Linked DNA regions of Homo sapiens: all the other regions are linked to region 2. Evidence: fine-mapped expression QTL. A gene starts in region 2. Each other region holds a variant in brackets. All regions are shown on one strand. Distances are between the middles of the regions.

Region 1 (5,229 bases), 35 kb after region 2:
AATAACATAATGACAGGATCAAATCCACATATATCAATATCAACACACATAGAGTCAAAGTAAAGGGATGGAGAAAAATCCATCAAGCAAATTGTAAACAGAAGAAAGCAGGGATTCCTATTCTAATTTCAGACAAAGCAGACTGATATAGTTTGGATATTTGCCCCTGCCCAAATTTCATGTTAAATGGTAATCCCCAATGCTGGAAGTGCGGCAGGGCCTTGTGGGAGGTATTTGGGTCATGGGAGCAGATCCCTCATGTCTTGGTGCTACCTTTACAGTAGTGAGTCAGCTCTTGAGAGATGTGGTCATTTGAAAGTCTGTGGCACCTCCCCCCAACACACACTGTCTCTCACTCCTGCTCTGGCCACTTCATGTGGCTGCTCCTGCTTCACCTGCCATGAGTAAAAGCTTCCTGAGGCCTCCCCAGAAGCAGGTGGTGGAGCTGTGCTTCCTGTACAGCCTGCAGAACTGCAAGCCAATTAAACCTCTTTTCTTATAAATTACCTAGACTCAGGTATTTATAGTAGTGCAAGAACAGCCTAATACACAGACTTTAAACCAACAATGGTCAAAAGAGACAAAAAGGCATTACATAATGGCAAAGGATTCAGTTCAACAGGAAGACCTAACTATTTTAAACGTATGTGCACCCAACACAGGGGCACCCAAATTCATAAAACAAATTACTTAGAGACTTAGATAACCAACACAAATTTGTAAGCTTTCTTAAAACATTATGAGATTTTTTTTGTAACTTTTTTTTTTTTAGCTAATCAACTATTATTAGCATCAATGTGTTTTATGTGTGGCCTAAGATAATTCTTCTTCCACTGTGGCCCGGGAAAGCCAAAAGATTGGACATCCCTGGTATATGCCCAAAGCAATGTAAATTGTTCTACCAAAAACGCATGTGCTTGGATGTTCATCATAGCTCTGTTCACAATAGCAACATCATGAAATCAACCTAAATGCTCATCAGCGGTAGACTGGATAAAGAAAATGTATATATGCACCATGTAATACTATGCAGGCATAAAAGAATGAGATCATGTCCTTTGCAGCAACATGGACAGAGGAGCTGGAGGCCATTATCCTAAGCACACTAATGCAGGAACAGAAAACAATTACTTTATGTTCTGACAAGTGGGAGCTAAACACTGAGCACGCATGGACACAAAGAAAGGAAGAACACACACCAGGGCCTACTTGAGGATGGAGGGGTGTGGAAGGTGAGGATCAAAAAATTACCTATTAGATACTGTGTTTATTACCTGAGTGACAAAATCTGTACGCCAAACCCTGTCACACGCATTTTACCAAGAAAACAAATCTGCCCATGTCCCCTTGAATCTACAATAAGTTAAAATAAAAAGCTGGCATTAGAATGGAAATATTAACAGGATGTCATGATCATCAAAATAGTACAGAAGTACTTAATAGTTAATTTGATTACATTATTAATTACATAAACATTTTTATGCATGGGATGTTTTACTTTTTTTAAACAACAGGATAAGAAAAGGGCTTTAAATATACAGGAGGGATGAACATTGAAAATGAAAATTGATTGCCTGTTAATAATATAGCAGAAGAAGACATTGAAATAGGTTGTTGAGTCTCCAGCCTTAGTGGACCATTAAGAAGTCATTACTTCTCCTGAATGGTTTAGAATGAGTGTCACAAACATAAAAGCTTAGGGACCATGTAGATAACATAATGTTCAAATCAGCTAAGTGTAAGAAAATTAGAAATGATTGGGGGCCTGTCAATGGCTTGTTATTTTCCTGTCCAGATATTTCACTTGCCAGGGATGTATCTGATGATTCCTCCTGAGAGAGTGAACATCTTAAAATTTGGATGCAAAATTTGGAAAAGCAGGGTAAAATTTAGATTTACATTAGTGTCAATTAGACCAAACTGCCTTCTCCCACTTAGCTTCAATTTGTGGAATTTCTATATTAATATTTTATTATGATCAGTTTTCTATTGGTATGTTAACTTGAGGAAAATCATTTAATCAAAATGTAACTATGAGATGAGTAGCTTTATGTTTTACTTTTCTATATATTGAAGTAATTAAAAAAGTTTTAGAACTAGCAAAAAAAAAAAAAAAAAACCCTCTATATCTTCAAGAAGTAGCCATCACTATAATTTATGCCACCCACCAAAATATTTTACCTAAATCAACTTAAGTATGTTCTCCTGGTCTTTTTTTGACTCTTAGTAAATTTTAAGTAATAAGTTGCTGTTTTTATGATAATGATAATCTGCACTCATTTTTTTCCTTTCAAAACTTTGAACAACTATGTGTAAATAATCAGAGTTTGAGTTAGAAGTTCTAAGTAAGCCTAGAATATTCTTGGTTTTCCCTCAGATAAAATTTTGAACTATTCCTACAATTTTCATGCCTTTTCTTGATTCCCTGGTACACATTCATTCTAGGTAGTCCTCATTGTTCTGGTTGATTTAAAATCATTTCTCGCTCAATGAAACTTACTTTTATTATGCCCCTTCTTTACTAAGTCAGTAAATCTGATGAATTGTGTCTTTGCTCAGTTTATTTACTCATTCAAGAAATGTTGAGAGCCTACCATGAACTAGGTGTTGTGGTTAAAAAGATTAATAAGACCAGGTTTCCTTTTCGTTTTTCTTTTCTTTTCTTTTTTTTTTTTCTTTTTCTTTCTTTCTTTTTTTTTTTCCAAGATGGAGTCTCCCTCTGTTGCCCAGGCTGGAGTCCT[C/G]TGGCAGCTCGCTGCACCCTTTGCCATCCGGGTTCAAGCGATTCTCCTGCTTCAGACTCCCAAGTAGCTGGGACTACAGGTGCATGCCAGCATGCCCGGCTAACTTTTTTGTATTTTTTAGTAGAGACAGGGTTTCACCACATTGGCCAGGCTGGTCTTGAACTGCTGACCTCAAGTGATCTGCCCGCCTCTACCTCCCAAAGTGTTGAGATTACAGGTATAAGCCACTGCGCCTGGTCAAGACCAGATTTCTTTATAAGGGATTTGATATGGACAATGGTATACAAACAAAAATATGTAATTGATAAATTCAGCAAATATTTAGCACTTCCTGTGTATCAAGTATTATTTTCCATTTACAGGGCTGTAGCAATGAATTAAACAGGCATCTTCTCTTCCCTCCTGGAGCTTATATTCTAGTAGGGAAACTGATAAGACAATCAGGTATATAAGATGTCTTTTGGAGGTAAGTATTTGGGGAAGAACACATAAGAAGTTATGGGTGACGGTTTTGGAGCATAAATCATACCACAGAGTTGCCCTCCCCTGGAATTAAGGAAGCTGGTCTTTTGTATCTCAATGATTAATAATTAGTCATTGACTGAGAACCTCTCTAGGGTAGAAGTAGTAAGGCATGAAGCTTTCTGGGCAAGATGGTGCCAGTTAGCCAAAGGCAGTTCTCTGGAGAAGTGGGGGAGCATCTCCAAGCCATTAACAGCTCAGTTATTTACATTTTAAATAGTTTTAGTTATCGCATGTATATCCACTACTTACAGTTTACTGTTAACATTTTATTTTGTTATAATTCATCACATATCTGCCTCTCTATGCCTCCATCAGTCCATCAATCCACCTTATTTTTTGATGCATTTCAAAGTAATAATCTGCAGACATCTATATGCTTTCTCCTATTTAAGCATGAATATCATTAAGTGGATTTTAGCATTTGTTTACATTTTTCATTTGAAAAAAGTAATCATCTTCAAAACATATAGAATATTACCATCATCCTAGAAAGGTTCCTCGTGCCATTTCTAAGTTGATCCCCATATCTACCCCCAAGAGACAACCATTATTCTGATTTTTTTGGCATAGATTATTCTTGAAGTTGGTATAAATGTAATAATGCAATGCATATGCTTCTATGTAAAGGTTCTTTCACTTGGCATATTATATGTTGTGATTTATCTGTGTTGACTGTATGAGTAGTTCATTCCTTTTTCTTGCTGAGTAATATTCCTCTTTGTGAATATCCCATAGTTTATTCGTCTGTTGATGGACACCTAGTCTAGGTATAGGGTATTATAAATCTGTTATGAAAATTGTTGTACTAGTCTTTTCATTATGCATATATGTTTTAATTTCTCTTGGGTAAATAGTAGAGGTGGAGTCATGCATTAGGTGTACAGTAAGTTTCATAATAAACAGCTATATTTTTCTCCAAAGCCATTGTACCATTTTATACTCCTAAAATAGTGTGTTGGAATTTAAATTACTCTTCATTGTGATCAATATTTGATATTGTCAAACTTTTTAAAGTTAGCTCTTCTGGTGGGAGTATAGTGGATAGCTAATTATAATTTGTATTTCTGCAATGACATATAATGTTGAGCCCTTATAATTTGGGTGTGGGTCATTTATATATCTACTTTTTGAAACTACCTGTTCAAATCTTTTACCCATTTGAAAATCGATTGTCTCTTTATTACTGAGTTGTAGGTGTTCTTTATATACAGTAGTCCCTCCGTATCCACATTCCAAGACACACCCCACAGTGGATGCCTGAAATGACAGTACCAAATCCTGTACACGCTATATGCAGTAACTGATCTGATAACCAGGGTGGCTGCTAATTGACCAGTGGTCAGGTGGCATATACAGCTTGGATAAACTAGACAAAGGGATGTTTTACCTCCCAGGCAGGATGGAGCAGGATGGTGTGAGATTTCATCAGGCTACTTAGAATGGTGTGTAATTTAAAACATGAATTATTTCTGCAGTTTTCCATGTAATATTTTTAGACTGCAGGTAACCGAAACCATGGAAAGCAAAACTGCAGATAAAGGGGGACTACTGTATCTTGGATGTAAGTCCTGTGTTATATATGTTTTGTGAATAATTTTTCCCAGTTTGTGGCTTGCCTGTTTTCTTTAATGTTATCTTAGCAGATGTTTTTAAATTTTTAATAACCTCCAAATATATGTTTTTTTAAGTGGCTGTTGCTTTCTATGTTCCTAAGAATCCTTTGTCTACCTGTAAATAGTGAGACAGTCTGTTTTTTAATTTGTTTGTTTTTTTTCAAACTGTACTCTGCTTTCTTGAAGATACTTCCCAGAAACAGTCATGGTATTTCAGGCAGGACATGGGCAGACAATCATTAACAGTGTACAACAACTTTCAGACTCCTTCTTTGATGGACCACCAAAAATCAGAAAGCCACTATAAAACCCATGAAGTCTTCATTTGATGCTCAGAACAGGGAAAGTTT
Region 2 (5,229 bases):
AAAATTGCCAGATTTAGTGCTTGTAAAATTGTGTCAATTCCATATGGCAGAGTTAAATCTATCTGTATTTCATGATGCTCCACGTTGAGCACCATAATTTCTAGAGACTGCCACCTGAACTAGTTTGAAAACCAACATTACACCCCTGACTGCCTTTTGTTATTTCTCAGAGAAGGAATGTTATTAGCCTCAGTGGAACTCGCAGGGAAAGGCTTAGATAGAAAGTAATCTTAAAAAAAAAAAAAAAAAAGACCGAAGGAGAATTAAATAGGGTAAATTCAAGTGTAAGAAGGATAACATAATAGCTCCTGTTTCCTGAGTCCTTATTGTGTAACAGGATTTGTGCTAAGTATTTTCCAAAATTTTGTTTCATCTTTACATCCATCTGTGAGGTAAGTATTAATATCACCCACGTTAGACAGATGAAGAAAGGAAGGTCCGGAGACCTGTTCAAGGTCACACAGCAGGTAAGTGTTGGGTGACACTGAGATTCAAACTGAGGTTTTCCGACTGCAGTGATGATGACATTGTAATGCTTCTTTGTGTGTATGTGATTTTAAAAAACTGACATGAAGTGCACAGATCTTTTTGCATATGTATACACCCGGGTAACCATTAAGATATTGAATATTTCCAGCAAACCAGAAGGCTCTCTCCTGTCCCCTCTCAATCAATTCCCCTGTAAGTAATCACTACCTTGCCTCTAATACCATAGGTAGATGGGTTTTCATTAGATTAATCTAACTTTCTGGAGTTAACACCAAAAGATTCCATATGTCAGCCCTTCACCTTGCCATGTTAGCTGTATTATTCAAAGCTGCTCTAGCTCTGACTTTGCAAGCATTCACTGTAAAGAAGAGCTGTTGGATGGACATGTTCATATCCAGTTTCTTGTATTGTTCTGAAATTAATACTAATTTTTGAAAATCGAAGAAACTCCTGGATGAAGTGCTACAGGATGGGGCAGATTAAAGTGCTGTTATCAAACAAACCTCTCTACCTTGGAAGCGCCACAGACAGAGCTTCCTTGATTGATGTAATTTGGCGCATCTATTTCCAATCATGTCATCTGATTAAGAAGTTGGATGACCACGAAAGGTCATCTCAGTTTATGGAAGGGAAGGCGAGCCGGGCAGAGTTGGTAACGGTGATTGCTTCGCATCATCTTGCAGCACGCGATGATGTTTATGTCCCAAATACCTCCCACAGCCGACTTGCTGTTTTATGATAGGAGGGAAACAGTAGAGGGGAAGAAGATCTAGGTGGAGGGTGAAATATGACCTAACATCGTTCGACGAGGTATTAATGTGGTGGCTTTCCCGCCCTTGTCGACCAGCTCTTAAAACCACGCTACTTCTTAGTCAACCTGGCAGTGACAGAAGCAGCGCCACGACTTTACCTCAGGTTTGCAAGCTGTGGTTGGTGAATTTTCAGCCATTATTCTAAATAACAGTCTCGGTCTCCCCACAAACCCCACTGTTGTTTTGTTTTTCTTTCTCATTCTGATTCTCCCCACAGCCAACCGTGGCCTTTTGAAGTCGTCTACAAACTACCACTGAGAATCCGGGAAAGAATAACTGACACTTGTAGGCTTCGAGGACTCTCAGAGTGATATGTGCCTGAGGTGACCGAAGTGGGGGAGATCTAGGAGAGCATTCCGGTCATCAAAGCAGGAGGACAGGCCCTGAAATGGGCGCACGTGACAGCAGCAGCCACCTCGAGAGTGACATCACCCCTGAGGGCGGAGCCCAACTATGTAGGGCCTTGTCAGTTACCGAGCGTCCTCCCTGCTGCCCCTCCAAATGCCACCCACAAGTCCGAGCCCCCCGGGGATACGAGAAATGCCAGGACATCCCAGAGCGCCAGAGCCAGGGCCCCGTCTCTCCGCGCGGAGGAGGGCTGCGTCCCCACTCCCTCTTCCAGCCGTTCCCCACCCCCAAACTGTGGAAGGGGCGGGGGCGCGCGCGCTCCACCACGCACGCGCCCCCACGCACGCGCGCTCCCTCCGCGCTCGCGCCCCTCCCCACCCCAGCCCGGAGGGGGCGGGGCTGCGGGCGGCCTCAGAGGGTGCGACGCCCCCAGCGCGGCGGCGGCGCTAGCGAGCGGCCGGCGGGGCGCGGGTTGCTGGGCGCGCTGCTCCGGCGGGGCCCGCTGGCACAGCCGCCTCGCGCGAGCCGCCCGCCCGGCGGGGGAAGCTGCGAGCGCTCCGAGCGCCCGGCCTAGGGCCGCTGGCGCTGCCCTCCCGCCGCCACCGCCCTCCGCGCCTCCTTCGGGCGGCCCCGCCCCCATTCCCATCCCCCTCGCGCTCACCTCCCGGCTGTGCCGCGCGCTAGGCGGAGCGAGGCGCCCGCCGCCGCCGAGCCGAGCCGAGGGGCGAGAGCTGGCCCCCGAGCCGCCGCTGACAGGAGCACCGCCGCGGGCTGCGCTCGCCGGCTGCGAGGCCCCGCCGCGCCGTTCCGGGGTGCAGACTCGCCGCGGGGCGTTGGAGGACTGCGAGGTGCTCCGGGAATCGCGGGCGGCGCCGGCGGGCGGCGCGGTCCTCACAGGAGACCCCGGGGACTGGGGCTTGACCCGGAGGTGCAGAGAGCCCCTCAGAGCGGCAGGTAAGGGGCCCGGGGAGCAGGGCGAGGAAAGGTCGCTTCAGTGACAGGGTCGTTCGCCTCCACAGCCTCGGCTCCGGGGAGAGGGGCGGGGGCGAGCGGGGAGACGGCGAAATGGGCAGCGAAGTGCCTCGGTGTCCAAGGCGTGGGGAAGGCTGGCTCCGAATATGACACCAAGGCGGGCTTCAGAGGCGTGTGGGGTCGCCACTTGGCTGTCACCGAAGATGTCATGGAATTTGGTACCTAGAGCGTCTCTGGATGACGGGGACCAAGGATAAGATGCGAGGCGGATTGCTAAACGTGGCAGGGAATGTGGTGCAGAACGAGTTGCAAAATGTGCCCCCAGAATGCAGCATAAAAGTAGTTGCGAAATGTGCCAGGTAAGGCACAGGATGGGCTGGCCTCTGTGGCGTTGAAATTCATGGTCGAAGTGTTATTAGCGATATTAATAATTCCTCTGGGAAAGGAGGTGTAGCATAATAAAAGATTAATAAGGCTCATTGCTAGATATTTTGCCATAGGAAATCGGGAGGAGCTATGATAAGCTATTTTTTTTGAGGTAGAGAAAGTAACCACGTGAAAGAAAAAAAGCAAATTGTGTCTGGCTGTGAGATTGGAAAGAAAAAATAGGGCTAAAATAATTCCAGGTTTTGCCATCAGCGTGTAGAGCATTGGTACAATTGTATCCAGTCTTCATTTCCAGGTGTGGAATGTTTAGAATGGTCTTCACAAAACATAAACAATGATAATTAACATTAGGAAGAAGATTTGGTGTTTCGGGTGTCTTTCACTCTCTTCTCTGCTCCTCTCCAGGAAAAGAAACAAACAAAACCCCAAACGTCTTGACCATAATTATGAGTTAAAGATCATTAGGCAAAGGGAAGTATTTTTCGTATGTGCCCTTTTCCTGATTTTTACACAGGTGAAAATATCTGTAATGAGGAAAACAAAGCAGTGTGGTGAACAAAAGGGATAGATTTTCAGGCATTTTGAGGGGTTGGAGCCAGTATCTATCACAATGGTTAATTATAGAGAACGGCAGTACTAAAATATTCTTGTATGTTCTTGGTGTTGGGATGGTGAAATAAAAAAAAAAAAGAATACAGTAAATTGGCATAAAAAGCAACAACATGGATACTGTCAGTGGAGTGCTTCTTGCAGCATTTCCCAGGTAGATCCTCTTAGGGATGTGAGCACGAAATAAAACGTTAAACATTCTCTTTCTCCCTCTCTCTTGCTCCCCTCTGTATCTAGATATTTATTTATGTCTCTATATAGATATATGTGCATGTATATTATACATACATAAGAAATTACCAACATGCTGCAAAACATTGTGACTTCCATTTAAGAACATCTGTTTCGAGAGGATTGTCAGAACATAGCTGGAATTTCAGAAGTAACAAAAGACAACTCCATGATCTATTTAATGTAACTTATATGTATACATACAATGAGTGTGAATATACTATATAACAAAAGCAGAAATATGGAAATGTGTTCGTTAGAATGTACTTAATTATTGATGAGATTTTAATGTTTTATGTTATAATTCTTGTAAAGAAATTAAATTACATGTGTGAATGCTGTTCTCATTATAGTAATTTGCCAGATAATCTGAAAATTCATACTGATTGGCTTTCCCTTAGATCCAAATTCAGCCATTGAGGGATCATTTGCTTCAAAGACAAAAATAGATTTTCCTTGGTGATTGATTTTGGGTTTTAGTCTTTTCTGTAGATATGTCCCTTACCTTGAGAAGCTGTTGGGGCTGAAGAACAGAGGAAAGGGCCAGAGGAGAATAAAGAGAATTCTGTTGGGTCTTCCTGTTTTGTTCTGACTGTAAGCCATATGTACTGCCACCCCCTACTGTCTGTAGGAAGAGGTGTTACAGAGCCCGATTCTTTTCTTGTTATCACTGCCCCCTTGTGTAAGGGAAGAAATTGATAGTTGCGCTCGGGGAACCAGTCCTCTCAGATTGTTCTTGATAGAGTATTATGTAGATCTGTGAATCACCTATTTTCTTCAGAGTTGAAGGGCTTTAAACTTACTGTTAATCAGGCCTCAGATTTGGTGTCTATTTTAAATATAGGTAGCATTTGATGTTAGGAATTCAGATTGCTTAAGAATGTTTTTGGTACTTTCAGGAAGAGGGTGCAATACAATTACTACTACATTCTTCCCTTATTGTATGCAGGGGATTGGTTCCAGGACCCCCACATATGCCAAAATCCTTGCATGCTCAAATCCCGCAGTTGGTGTATGGAACCATGTATAGGGAAAAGTCGGCCCTCAATATACTCGGTTTTTGCATCCCATGAATACTGTATTGCTTGAAAAAAATCTGCATAGGAGTAGACCAGCACAGTTTAAGCCCATGTTGTTCAAGGGCCAGCTGTACTAGTAGTAACAGCTCACATTTATGTAGCACCTATTCTTTGCCAGTCCCGTTGTACGTTGTTTTAATCAGTTCCAACACCCTATGAGGTATGTGTTGTTATTTCTGTTTTACAGATGAGAATCTGAAACACAGAGAGGTTAAATAACTTGCCCAATACTATATAGCTGAGAAGTAGAAGAGCTAAGTTTCCATTTAGGAATGCTAGCTCCAGAACCTGTGCTCCTCATC
Region 3 (5,229 bases), 390 kb after region 2:
AGGATTTTCAGCAGAGAATGGAGAACCTCTCCATGTTCCTAATCAAGCGCAGAGACATGACTCGTATGTTTGTACATCCTTCTTTTCGAGAATGGCTTATCTGGAGAGAAGAAGGAGAGAAAACCAAATTTCTCTGTGATCCGAGGTAAGACATATATCTGTGATAAACAATTCTGAGTCTGTTTTCTGTTTATTGCATGGAGTGTGAGTATTGAAAGTAGAAGTGTTCTTCATTGAACATTTCACATAGAAGAGACATCATCTGTGTTTCTTCTCAAGGCAAGGCTATAATGAGGTTAACTAATTTATTGTTTTACAATGTTATTTCCTTAAGACTCAACATCTGCATAGATATTTAGAATGCTATCCTACGTTCCTGTGTTCTTCTAAATAATTTTCACTGACCCCACAGGGTTCACAGGCTATAATTAAGTTAACCATTTAATGGACTTCCTCAGTATTATTATTCTGATATGAAGAAAGAATTGATATATTGTAAATCTCTTTGATTTAGGGCAGAATCATTTCAAAGTTTTTATTGCCCTTTTATAAAACCTTATCATTTTTAAAGTTTCCAGTGACTAAATCCATTAAAGTCCAGCCAATGCTAAGCTTTATACTAGAAAATACAATCTTAAACCTCCTAGCTGAAAAAGATTTGAAGAGATCAGCTGGTCTATCCATGCTGCCTTTAGATACGTAAGGTGTCATTATCTCCATTTTGCTATAAAGGCCTTAAGATGCTGGATCAACTTGCACAAAGTCATAAGGTTAATACATGGGAGAAGGGAGGGGCACACACCAGAATAGGGATCACAAGTGCATGATATATCCCACCACTCCCCACCCCACACGCACAACAGGATCACTGATTTACCCCAGCACTCTTTCCCAATGAGCTTGAACCTGACTTGAGAATCTTTCTCAACTCAAACCAGACTAGATATGAAACTGTTTCCCTTTTTATTGCATGAAACCTAGTTCTCTGGCATCCTGGTCGGGGTGTGCTTTTACTCCGTCATACTAACATTTTTAAAGACGTATTCCTTTAATAAAGTTGGTGTTTTCAAAAGCCGGGTACATTACTGACTTCATGGAAACAAAGAAGACACCAACAACATAGCTGGCAAATGCAGAGCTTATTTTGGCTCAAAAAGAAGAGGCCAGATTTGACTATGCCTCACATGTGACTCATCAGAAAGAATAAAACTCTGTGTTCATGCTGGGGTTTTATTGCCCTTCACCGTGTCCTTCACCAGGCCTTATTAGAGACAACTGTACTGTGGGCATGCTGCTCAGCCTACTCCATGCTGATTCATCAGAAAATTAGTTCCAGATTATGATGAAGATATTAAGCCAGGCAATAGACTTTGTAGCATTTTCTCTGAGAGGGAAGCTTTTTTAAAGAAACATGCTGTAGTGGAAAGAACATAAACTCTTGAGTCAAATTACCTGCATATAAATCCTGCCTCTTCTAGGAACTTTGACCTTTGGAAAAAGTTACATAGTGTTTCTAAGACTTAGTTTTCTTATCTACATAAGAGCAATAATAATGCCTTTTTTCTAGAGTTGTTGAGAAGTTAAGTGAGGTCATATAGTATGATGCCTAGAATAGTACAGAGTAAAAGAAACACTTGGGGTATGTTCTTTTTCCTCCCCTCACCCTGCAGTAATAGACCCTTCTGGTGTATCTTAGTTAAATCCTGTGGCTAATCGGATAGCGACAGCCATCTTCTGCTGTTATCATTTTGGAGCACAAGATTTTAAAAAGAAACAATAAAAACAATCCAAGTCCCTTCTGTGAATTGTATGATGTTCCCAAAAGGATTTTACTATAAATCCTACTAGAGCTGTTGTCAATATTTAATACAAAGAACTGGCAACTATGTATATAGGAAAAAGAAACTAATGTAGAATTGCCTAATAAACGCTTTGAGATCAGTTCCCAGAGAAACTTTGCTAGCTGATCTGGGACCTTAGATCCTGGGACATCTCAGAGGATTGAAAGCTGAGGTCCAAGGCAACCAGACTACCACTGAATTAATAGTATCCTTACAACAGATGAAATCCTCAGGGGCTCTCAGAGGAGAAAATACGGCTTTTATACAGCCATATCATGACTATACAGGCTTTGCCTTCTCAACATCGCATTTTAACTAGGAGTTTTGCAGCAACCGACTGATGCACTGGGACAAGAGGAGCAGGTACTTCCAACTTCAAATCCTGTATAATCCGTTCCCTGATGATTGAATAGCATGGCTGCTGAGAGATCATCTTATTTCACTTAATGGCAGAGAGTAAAATTGTAAACAGGACCAGGAGTTATCAAAAAAAGCTTTCTTAGATTTCATTTCAGTTGGAACTCAGCCCCCTCCCCAGCAATGGCTGGCACCAACCTTGTTACTAAAGTACTGAAGTATTGATCTCAGTGCTTAAGGCTCCCTAGGTCAATGAGATGGAAATTCACTAAGAATTTAATGCTATTGGCAAAGCCCAAGCTGGTCTTTCAAAGCAGCTGGCTGCACTTGTTTTCCATTTCAGGCAGGTCTGATTAGCAGGACTCTCTCCAGGCATGGTTTGTCTTTGTGGCCTTCAGCCTCCACTTCTTGCACATTGTTTCTCCTTCTGTTCTCCACTTTCTCTCCTTCTCTCTAAAGCATCTTTCAGTAGATCAAAGAAGACCAATTCAGTGCCTCTGAAATCACACCAGGTAAGCCAGTGCCTGACATGTACATCTCTGTGGTGTAAGGAGAGCTTCCAGAGGCAACACAACATTCTTACCCTTTTTAGTCCATTTTCCTGGGCTTTCAGCACTCAATTGCCAAAAAGTAGTTGATCTTCTCCAGAAATAGGCTACCCAAGGAGGTTGCTTCTGCCTGAGCTGAAAAGAGTCAGTAATCTGAGAATGGTGCTGGAAGCAGGAAATAGCAGAGCCAGAGGTTAATGCTACAGCTGAGATTGAGTTTTCATTATTTTGAATACCAGACTGCTTATTGTCTCAGAATCTGGGCAAGGACTTGACCTACCAGAGAGAATGACCTAACGTTACATAGATGTATCGTTGTCTCATTGTCATAGAAATAAATGAGTAACAAGGTGAGTAGAG[TGAGA/T]GAGAGAGAGAGAGAGAGAGAGTATGTGTGTGTGTGTGTGTGTGTGTGTGTGTGTGTATGTGTGTGTGTATCAAACTGTAAGCAGAGTATCACTGAAGAATCTTTTAGATTTGCAGTTTAGGTAAAATATGCCCCTTGAAGCAATCACAAACCTTAGACCATACCACCTCATTCTGCTCTCTGTTTCCCACTGTTCATCACTGTCAGCCTTCTGACATACCCTGAACTTAATCTGTCCTATGTTTTATTCTCTTGGGCACGGAGATATCAGATTAACTCACTAATTTAATAAGCGAATTCCTGCTATTATGCTAATAGTAAAGAGATGGAAAACCTATTTGAGGCAACTTGTGCATTTAAAATAAGACATTTGAGAGAAGTAGTCATCGGCCTTTGTTAGGCAACCTTTTAGTGACTCTCATAGTAGAAATTTAAGGCTGATAGAGTAGACAGTCGGAGCTACCAGCCTTGTGGTGCAGTCCAGTTACTGCTTAATATTTCTATATCGCTTTAGGCTCGCCCTGAATAAATCTCCACTCTGTTCTGTTTCTATTCCTCATTTTCTCAATTTTCATGATATCTAACTTTCCCTTCCATAGGAACGGCTCTCAGATTAATATTTGTGTGTGTGTGTGTGTGTGTGTGTGTGTGTAAGATTTTGCCAGAGATTAAAAGACTACTGCGTTATTATGTGTGTATTTTTGTGGGGTTTGTTTTTATTTTTTTAATACAGTATCTCACTCTGTCACTCAGGCTGGAGTGCAGTGGCACAGTCACGGCTCACTGAAGTCTCAACCTCCTGGGCTCTGGCAATCCTCCTACCTTAGCTTCCTGTGTAACTGTGACCACAGGCACATGCCACCATGCCTAATTTTTTTTGTTTGTAGAGAAAGAGTCTTACTGTGTTCCTGGTCTCAAACTCAGGTTCAAGCCATCCACCCACCTTGTCCTCCCAAAGTGCTGGGATTACAGGGATGAGCTACTGCACCAGCATTTTTTTTTTTTTTTCGAGACAGAGTGTCCTGTCACCCAGGCTAGAGTGCAGTGATGCGATTTCACATCACTGCAACCTCTGCCTCCTGAGTTCAAGCAATTCTCCTGCCTCAGCCTCCCAAGTAGCTGGGATATTACAGGTACCTGCTACCTTGCCCGGCTAACTTTTTTGTATTTTTAGTAGAGACGGAGTTTCACCAATTTGGCCAGGCTGGTCTCGTACTCCTGACCTCAGGTGGTCTGCCCACCTCAGCCTCCCAAAGTGCTAGGATTACAGGCATAAGCCACCGTGCCCAGCCTAGCCAGCCTTATTTTTAAATGTTTGAATAAGATACAAGAAGCTTGTTGTGAACTTCATGTAATGAGTGTTGAGTTGATACAACCTAATGAGATTGTGATGTGGGAGCCTAAGGTTGTGATGTGGGAGCCTAATTTGGTTTGACCTGATTTCCTCAAATTAAAGACAGCAAATCCTGTGATGAATGGAAAGGGAAAAGGCGACACAAATCCTACCTATACCATGGGATAGTTGAGTACTTACTTGATTCTTTATGACCAGAATTGATTGCTTATAATAAGTGGTTTGTCGAGGTTTTTCCTAATTTATTTGACCATATTAGTAAGTGAATTACACGTTGGAGACCTGATGCTCCAAAATCCATTGCCACAAAGCAGGGTGTCAGAGAACAAGCAGTTTGTCTAAGGAAAAAGAGAGGGTGTCCTCCCCAAAGTGAAAAATAACTGTGCCAGAGGTCTGTATAACAGGGCTTCTTATAGAATAGATGGGGTTGAAATGACTACAAAATAAATGGTGAGTTGAAGTTTGTGTTGATTTTGTTTTTTAAATCTAAATATGAGCCTCCAGGCAAGATGACAATTAACCTTACCCTCACTGAAGCACAAACTTGAGGTCACTGCTCCTGATAGCCATTGCAGGCTCCCAGAGCAGACCCTTAAACTGGAGGATGGGTTCTGCTTTCTCAAAGCATTAGGAGAGAATTCAGCAAAATGATGAAGCATGGGAAGGAAAAAGGGCCTCTTAGAACTAAATCAACCCTTAGGAGGCTTGGAAGAGTTAAAGCAGAGAAAAGAGAATGTACCAGACATCTTTTATTCACACTTTCAA

Alleles and levels. Positions count from the first base shown, and alleles are read on the strand shown. Sizes are in standard deviations (SD) of each study's normalised expression. Not every link is listed here.
For the expression in whole blood of the gene that starts at base 2,089 in region 2, allele C in region 1 goes with a lower level than allele G (small effect, 0.34 SD a copy in Lepik 2017).

What was found. PIP is the estimated chance that this variant, and not a neighbour inherited with it, causes the effect.
Region 1: its variant is the best candidate, but not a certain one, in a credible set for the expression of TANC2 in whole blood (Lepik 2017, PIP 0.56).
Region 3: its variant is the best candidate, but not a certain one, in a credible set for the expression of TANC2 in whole blood (INTERVAL, PIP 0.79).

The regions. Positions count from the first base shown.
Region 1 is chr17:62,998,868-63,004,096 of GRCh38, forward strand. All of the region lies in intron 1 of TANC2 (tetratricopeptide repeat, ankyrin repeat and coiled-coil containing 2), which reads left to right. Among named protein-coding and RNA genes, the nearest start is that of TANC2, 35 kb to the left of the region's middle. The variant C/G (reference allele first, on the strand shown) is at 2,742.
Region 2 is chr17:62,964,147-62,969,375 of GRCh38, forward strand. It overlaps TANC2 (tetratricopeptide repeat, ankyrin repeat and coiled-coil containing 2), which reads left to right and starts at 2,089. Exons shown (of 28, transcript NM_001394998.1): 1 at 2,089-2,603. RefSeq lists a silencer at 1,976-2,165.
Region 3 is chr17:63,355,246-63,360,474 of GRCh38, forward strand. TANC2 (tetratricopeptide repeat, ankyrin repeat and coiled-coil containing 2) reads left to right here. Exons shown (of 28, transcript NM_001394998.1): 14 at 1-145. Among named protein-coding and RNA genes, the nearest start is that of CYB561, 88 kb to the right of the region's middle. The variant TGAGA/T (reference allele first, on the strand shown) is at 3,107.